3 separate regions of the Homo sapiens genome follow, and all the other regions are linked to region 3. Evidence: fine-mapped expression QTL. A gene starts in region 3. Each other region holds a variant in brackets. All regions are shown on one strand. Distances are from middle to middle. Region 1 overlaps ARHGAP42 (Rho GTPase activating protein 42). Region 2 has its middle 95 kb from the start of ARHGAP42. Region 3 holds the start of ARHGAP42 (Rho GTPase activating protein 42).

Evidence for each region. PIP is the estimated chance that this variant, and not a neighbour inherited with it, causes the effect.
Region 1: its variant is fine-mapped to the expression of ARHGAP42 in tibial artery (GTEx, PIP above 0.99).
Region 2: its variant is fine-mapped to the expression of ARHGAP42 in whole blood (TOPMed, PIP 0.98).

Annotation. Positions count from the first base shown.
Region 1 is chr11:100,738,367-100,741,129 of GRCh38, reverse strand. All of the region lies in intron 1 of ARHGAP42 (Rho GTPase activating protein 42), which reads right to left. Among named protein-coding and RNA genes, the nearest start is that of ARHGAP42-AS1, 52 kb to the right of the region's middle. The variant A/G (reference allele first, on the strand shown) is at 1,315.
Region 2 is chr11:100,590,942-100,593,704 of GRCh38, reverse strand. No RefSeq gene overlaps it. Among named protein-coding and RNA genes, the nearest start is that of ARHGAP42, 95 kb to the left of the region's middle. The variant G/A (reference allele first, on the strand shown) is at 1,167.
Region 3 is chr11:100,686,047-100,688,809 of GRCh38, reverse strand. ARHGAP42 (Rho GTPase activating protein 42) reads right to left here and starts at 1,522. Exons shown (of 24, transcript NM_152432.4): 1 at 978-1,522. The coding sequence starts at 1,131. ARHGAP42-AS1 (ARHGAP42 antisense RNA 1) reads left to right here and starts at 855. Exons shown (of 2, transcript NR_133571.1): 1 at 855-1,177. RefSeq lists enhancers at 758-1,127, 1,448-1,497, 1,211-1,921 and silencers at 1,148-1,317, 1,618-1,807, 1,858-2,152.

The DNA of each region.
Region 1 (2,763 bases), 52 kb before region 3:
GAACCCAGGAGATGGAGGCTGAAGTGAGCTGAGATCTTGCCACTGCACTCCAGCCTTGGAGACAGCGTGAGATTTCATCTCAAAAAAAGAAATAAATAAATAAAATTTCTTATTTTCTCTCTTTATGTAATCTGCAAAGGAGCCTTACAGTCAGTCAAATAAATCTGTCTGCTTTCCCCCTCAAGCCCATGGGACTAGAATAAGGCCACATGTCCCCTCTCCAGGAATAACTAATTAAAGTATAACCACAGATACCCTCTTTATTCTTCTCTTGATAGACATATTTTTTTTAAATAATCCAGTAAGTAACGTTCCAAAGCTTCATCAACCCTGTGCCAAACTTTAACAGTGGTTGAATCTTCCCTGGAGCAGCAAAATCTGACACTCAACAACAGGAGAGGCAGAAGGAGCAGCTGCCAGGAGCAATGTACCTACCCCATCGCTTTATCTTGCAACTGCTGGCACCATCCCCTTCACTTTCAGGAACCATTCTACATCAAACTCTGCTTTCCAAGAACTTTTCCTCTACACATTCCATTCTCCTCCCCCTATACCATAAAGCTTCTGGCTAATGTTCATGGCATGAATGATACTGCCTTCAAATGGCAAAGAATAGCACTTTAGTATCAGACAGACAGGTTCAAATCTTAGTTCCATGACTGACTAGCTTTTGTTCCTGGAGCAAATTAGTTAACCTGTTTTGCACTCTCAATTTTCTACATATAAAAGAACGCTAGTGCTCACTTCACAGTTTTTAGAAGATGGGAGAAATAAATTCAGTGCCCAAGTGTTTACTCAGCAAATACGTTTTTCTTCCCTTGTGCACCAAAGGAAAAAAAACTGAGGGTATCATATAAAATTTGGGAGAAGGGAGAGGCCATAGCATGACCAGGTCTTTTTTAAAAGTTTTATGTTCATAATAAAAGTCATGAAACAAGAGAATCTAAAGGTCTTAGCATTTTAGACTTCACTGTCAACAGGAAAACTTCCAGAAATCATACAAAAAGGATGAACATACACAGGCAAGCTTTAGTGAGTTGAAAATTAAAAAAAAAAAAAAAAATTGTACTAATAACCCTTTAACTTGCAGGCTGACACCAAGTAACTTTCTTTAAAAAATAATATTTCAACACGCAAAAAACAAATCACACACAAAATTTTTTCACAGATAGTCACCGTTCTAGGTAAAAGCCTTTGCCACTAGTATTTTTAAAAGCTGCAGCTGGACTGTGGGTCAGATGGCACTCAGCAGTTGTGTGTGTTGGGGGTGGGGTATGTCAGGAATGAATGCGGTTATCAAGGCATTTCTAAGTA[A/G]GGAACCCTTGGAACAACATTAGACTGAGGGTCATGGGAAAAGAAGTTATGCTCACCCTACTTCCTGGCAGCATTTTCAGTACACAAGCCATAAGCAACTCATGTTTACAAAAGGAACAAGAAAAGAGGGGCTTATTAGATGCAGAGGGGAGGGAGAAACAAAGTATAGATACACAGAATTATACCTTCGTACATTACATTTTAAAATTCTTTCTTTAAAAACTCTAGAAATAGTTTTAAAGATTTAGCACACTTCACTATGCAAAATATTTCATCCTGACTGCTTCAGTAAATCAAATTAGAGTATTTTTATCTAAGTTAATCACATAAATGAAACTCAATTAAGGAAAAGAAAACAAGCATGGTATATCTACTTTATCCTCTTTAGAACAAATTGCAATCTGAAGTTATTTTTGAGAGTCATAGAAAAAATGTTTCTCAGGATTTCAAAGTTTCAAATCAAGAGTTCTTCAGGTTAAAACAAGATTGTTTAAGAACCAAGTGAATGGTCCTGAACTTTAACTAAAAAAAAAAAATCCAAGAGTATTTTAATTACCAAAAGTCAATAGTTCCTTATTTTTTGATCACTTTGGTAAAACTCAGACAAAAGATAACCAGTTAATGAATCTCAAAACTGCTTCATTTAAAACAAAAACAAAAACAAAAAAAAAGACTCTAAGATAACTTGAACAGAAGAAAAAAGCCACTGTCAAATCTACATATTTCTGTTGTGCATTTCCTTGAGTTAATCCTAGAATTCTGGAAAATTATAAGCACTTTTCAAAAAGATCTCAAACTAGGTCTGGGCTTAACAAACAGCTTTTTTCCTAAGTTCTGAAATACATGCTTTCTTTATAAGCATGGATTTACCAATAGGAGTGGCCTCCTGATTGCTTCTGTGCTTGAATGCTATTAAATTAAACAGTCAGACAAAATATGGAGCATTGACCTTGGCAAGGAATGCAACGGGCACAGTTTGTTTTGCCCTGCTTCTTCTTAAAAAGAAAACAAAATATTCAAACTTGAAACGTAATAATAAACAGATTTCTACATGTTCACTTTATTTGTATTATAATAAAACACTTTGACTTCTTAACTACCTTTAGTAGTCAGCAGCAATAGTACTTCTCTAGCAACATAGTTTTTTACTTTATTTAGAGGAATAAATTGTTTGCAAGTTTTACATATATTACCCTCACTGATGAAAATCATGATACCTCTCATTATTCAAAAACAGGTAAATGGCCAAGAGCAATACTGCTTTGATGGAATTGCAAAATGAGAAAAAATATACATCTGATGGAATTAGTGAGTTACCTCTCTTTTGTCTGTAATGTCAGATCCTTTAGATGATACTCTTTTAAATCTAAAACAAAGCTGGCACTTCTTTGTTAGACTGCGGTACTGTGAGGTTCCAAACAGACTGCAGCTCTGAAATATCAGCATCCA
Region 2 (2,763 bases), 95 kb after region 3:
CTTACAAAAACACAAATATGCGTCATATAGCTTAAATAGTAATGAGAAGAGGCCAAAACCAAACTATTGACATGCTTTAAACTGTACTGGGAGAAACCCAAGACATTCTGTTTATACTTTGGCCTTGGATCCAGTAAGCAACTGACCACAAGCTGCTGGATGAATGAACCGTGAGGATGTCAGGTGCTACTACACTGCTCAATGCAAATGCTTATCCAGGGGTCTCTGCAGTACTAACCACTTAGAAATGGCTCCATGCACAGATGGTCTGGGTTTCACTTCATTCAGTTTGTATAGTTTAGCATGGCCAATCTGTCACAGGGAATAATCCTACCCTAACCAGATGGAGGGATCAGTTCACCAAGTATTGTCTCATTCCCATTTCTAATGACTATAATTACATGAAACAATTTTTTTTTATCAAGCAAACATCTTTTACACTAAAAATAAAGCTCATGGTTAATTTGAAGGAATTCTTTGCCCAGGAGTTCTGGAATTAGTGAATGTCTTGTTGAGTGGGCAGCAGGGAACTGAGGGCCTGCCACCCAAAGTGAAAACAGGCCACAGTGCAATAGCAACCACTTGGGTAATTGGATGTGTATTCAGGGAAACCACAAGGTTGCCAAGGAGAAGTGCACTGCGATGCGCTGTTTAGAATAGAGCAAGTATTTTAGGGAGAGTAAAAAATATCCAATTCTATGTTGCCAGACATCATTTGTAAATATCTTTCTATCCTGGGAAGAAAGATGATATGCAAGCAAGTATGCCAATAACTCTTTTCAAAAAACACTTGTCAAAACTTGGCTAAGAAACCTAACATTGTCAGGGAAGCTGCTGCAAATGACGTGCTTCACTTTGTTAATATCCAACAGTTCTAGGGTTGCTAAACCGTGCTCTCCTCAGAGCCACTTTCTTGGAAGGCGTGTGAGTATTGATGTGGGTGCAACAAGTCCTGTGACTAGATTACCAGAGCTGGTTGTAATAACCTGGAAGACATAGGTGTAGCAGGTGCTGAAGGTGTTTTAGGCATGGGCAGCCGGTCATCCCCTAGGCTCCCTCCTTCCTATGTTCATCTCTTGACCCTTCCCTTTGCACACTCTCTGCTTCAGTTATTCTCTGCTGCTTGCAGTATCTACAACAGGTCATGTTCCCTGTTTTTCATTTCC[G/A]GCTGCCTTCTGCATGTTCTTTCCTCTGCCTGCTGGCAACACACCTGCTGAACTTTCCTCCTAGGTAATTCCTAGTTTCCCTTCAGGTCTCATTTTTCCTGAACACATCCTAAGATGCCTCCCCTCTGTTCTTCCATACCACCTGGTATTCCTACAGATAATCACTTGTCATATCGTCTATTACCTGCTCATTTTTCTGTCTCCCTATTAGCCTGAAACTCCTTGGAGGAAGGTGCTGGATTTTTTTTTTTTCAGTTAGATCCTTAATGCAGCAAGTTACTTAGGACCTAATGAGTGATCAATAAGTGTTTGTTTAATAGATGAATGAATAGATAAATAAGGGTGTTTCCTTGCAGCCTAAGAATACAAAAAAATTGACATGTTGTGTCAGCATGATACTAAAGAAATCAGACATGCTGGAAGTCAGACAAAAAGACTGGGTGGAAAAGGTTCACTCTAAGAAATCATATGTTTTAAAAGAATCTTAATGTATAAAGTGTTTCAAGAGTAATATAAAGAACTTTTAGTTCTTGAGCCATGTGGGACTAAGTTTCTGACAGGATGTCTCATCACCTCCAAATACTTTATTGTGTATTTCCAAAAAGCAAGAGTCTTTTCCAGTATGACACAATCCAGAGAATCAGAAAGTTAAATTGGATCACTATCTAATCCACAGGCCCAATTCCAGTTTTGCCAGTTTTACCAATAAAAGTCATTTATAGGAAATAGTCCAGCCCAGAATCAGGAATTGCATTTAGTTACCATCTTTCCTTAGTCGCCTTCAATCTGGAACAGCTCTGTAATCTTTGCTTGACTTCCATGACCTCGACACTTTTGACAGGCTCTTGTTTTTGTAGAATATTCCTTATTCTAGATTTGTCAGATTTTGTCATGATTAGGTTAAGATTAGACTAAATTGGAACATCACAGAAATGATGTTGAATTTTATCTTTGCATCATATTAGATGGCACATCATTTTGATTTGCTTTATTATTGTTTCTGTTAGCATTCATTACTTGAGCAAGGTGATATCTGCCAACCTTCTCCGCTGCAAAGTTACTCTTTTGTTCCTCTGTCTTAGAATGTTCTTGCTACTATAAAAAATACCTTGAACTTGGCAATTTATAAACAACAGAAATTCATTGCTTACAATGCAAGATTAAGGCGCCAGTATGTCACATGCAAAGACACACAGGCTCAAAGACAAGGGATGGAGGAAAATGTACCAAGAAAATGGAAAACAAAAAAAGCAGGGGTTGCAATCCTAGTTTTTGACAAAACAGACTTTAGACCAACAAAGATCCAAAGAGACAAAGAAGGGCATTGTATAATGGTAAAGCGTTCAATTCAACAAGAAGATCTAACTATCATAAATATATATATGCAGCCAATACAGGAACACCCAGATTCATAAAGCAAGTTCTTAGAGACCTTCAAAGAGACTTAGACCCTCACGCAATAATGGTGGGAGACTTTAATACCCCACTGACAATATTAGACAGATCACTGAGACAAAAAATTAACAAAGATATTCAGGACCTGAACTCAGCTCTCATCAGGCGGACCTAATAGATATCTACTGAACTCTCCACCCCC
Region 3 (2,763 bases):
TCCAGAAGCCTCTATTAAGATGCAAATACTTTTCACAGGCTCCTTTGAAGATGGAAAATAAATAAATACATAAATAAATAAAAATAAATTTTTTAAAAGATGCAAATACCTCCTGGGAAAGGTAACAAGCCATATCATGTAATTGTGCTCAATTCTCTGTAAGAGAAACTCTTCAGTTTCAGATACTCTTAGGTCTTAGGAATTGAAAGCTAAGATCCAGAGGATAAAAGGAGGAAGGAAAATTTGATCAAGAGGTGTATGGGAAAGGAGGTGGAAGAAGCCCTATATTATAGACTATAACAGTCTTTATATTCTACAGATCATCAAAAGTTCTGATTGGCCTTTAACCCCTTAACTTTCATCCCAATGACACACCCAACACCCACACAATGCAAACCAAAACTAAGACGCACAGAAAACTTGCAGAGTTAAAATGCACTGGTGCCTTGCTGTCTTCCATTATCTTACAAAATGGCAAAACTGCAAATGTATGCTTTTTAAAAAGCCAACTCAATGACTGTGTCCAATGAAGAGCCACTGACGTATGAGAGACATTAATAATTTTCTTTCAATATCACTAAACTAGCCTAATTTTATCTTTAAGACAAACTCTTGATTCCCCCCTTAAGGGCTTTTTTAGTTCAAACTATTAATAGACACAATAAATTAAAAAAAAAAAATTAAAGTCCCCAACATCTTCCTAGGAGCATTACACAACGAGATGACTTTGAACGACTTTCCTCAGGATATATTCCAGTGCCCTGTAGAGAACTTTCCCCATCCCTGTAGACATGTGAGTAAGTAAAGAACACCTCAAGAACAAACTTTGTTGGCCACCAGCAGGGGAGCTCTTCAGCTTTTGTCCCCAAATCCATTCAAACAAAAGAAGCTCCGACTCCTCCAACCCACCCTTCGGACCCGCACCCCGCGGGGACTCTCCAGATGCGGGTGTCCACTCCCCCGCCAGCCCTACTTACTCCTCAACGCCCCAATGAGCAGAGAGCCGTCCTTAATGAGCTCCTTGATGAACTTGTTGGTTCGCTCCAGCTCAATCTCGTGACACTGCAAGCGCTCCCTGAAATCTGGGCTGTCCAAGTAGGAATCGCTGAACTCCAGAGTGGGCAGCCCCATGGCACAGGCGCTGCCAGCGGCGGCCGCGGACACGTCCGGGCCGGAGGTCAGGGCGGGGGCAGCCGGCGGCCGCGGCGGGCGCTGGGGTCGCGCGATCGCGGGGAAGGCGCCGGGACGCGAGGGGACTGATTGCGCGGAGGAAACGGGCCCCGAGCGCCGCGCCGCCTGCGCCGGGCTCAGTCTTCCTCCCCCGAGGCTAGGCGAGCGCAGGCGCGGGCGGCGGGCCGAGGCGCGAGTCCCCTCAGGTTGTTGTCATCTGGACGCATCGTCGTTCGGAACGCGGGGGCGGCGAGGCTCCGGGCCGCGGCCGGAGCAGGAAAGTTTCTCTCACGGCGCGCAGACACTTCCGGCAGTTCCACTCCCCAACTCTCTTGACAGTCGTCGGCGTTGTGAGCCAGAAGCAGCGCACAGCCGCAACTCCGGCCGGGCTGGGGAAACCCTCCCCCTCGGCGGACGCAGGCTCAGAGCGCTTGCAAATCGCACCCGGGCTCCCAGACCCTCCTCCCCGCCGCCGCGCTCCCACCCAGCGCCACCCCGCCCCTTCGCCCCTTTGCCCTCCTGCCCCACCCGTCCGCCCGCACTGGGCTCCAGGGCTCCCCGCGCTGCAGCCCCGCGCTTGCGCTCCGGCCTTGGCTGGGGTGTTAGCCCTGTCCCCTCTTGGGCCCCTGGTTTCGGCTAGCCCTTGGTGACACTTCGGGGTCCCTCGCTCCACAAAAGGATCTGACTCCCAATATACCTCCCCTAACAGTGTCCCCTCCACCCACTCCCTACAATTCTCTGGGAGAAAAACCAACGTTAAGTTTCCCTAAAGTCTGAGTATTTTGAAGCGTAGATGGAAGATACTACTGTCTAGCGTTCGTTTAGATTTTACTTCACACTTCCCCACCGAATGCATTTGAATTCCACGTTGAAAAATTGTCCCGTCGCTCTCCCACCCCTCAGCTTCAATGATCCAGCCTGGAGGTGTTTCTTCCCCCTGCCCCCACTCCATAGCTGGGAAGGTGGGACGATTTTTCAAGTCATCCTCACTCTGCTTACGTGCTCCTACTTCTAGTAGAATACCTATTTGCATCACAATAGTAGTATCTCCTATTGGCACCTGGATGGAATTGTCCTAGGAGCGGGAAAATTTTCAAATTGTTGAAGTGGACTGGAGTTTGAAATAAATAGTTAACTCCTACCCACAGGCTTTATCCTTCCTCCGGTGGAGGTTCACCTAATAAATTTCTGTTCTCTTAAAACCTTGACAGCAAAAGAAACGACTGCTTTACATCTCGTCCTGACATCATCTATAGGATTTCTGAGAACTCGGATATTGTTCTTAAGGATCTGCTTTTAATTTCTGCATTTTCATTGCTTTGTCCATATGAACCATCTGTTTAAAAACTATTCTACAGATCATGGGAAAAATTCCACTAAAGTGCTTTACATTTTTCCCAATTAAGTTTCAGAGCCAGTCAAGATTCTTGGTTTCAATTTTTTAAATGTACAGGAACATTAAAAATAACATGTAAACCTAAAACAGATAAGATAATGTAAACAGTATGGGCCAGGCGCAGTGACTTAACGCCTGTAATACCAGCATTCTGGGAGGCTGATGCAGGAGAATCACTTGAGGTCAGGAGTTGGAGA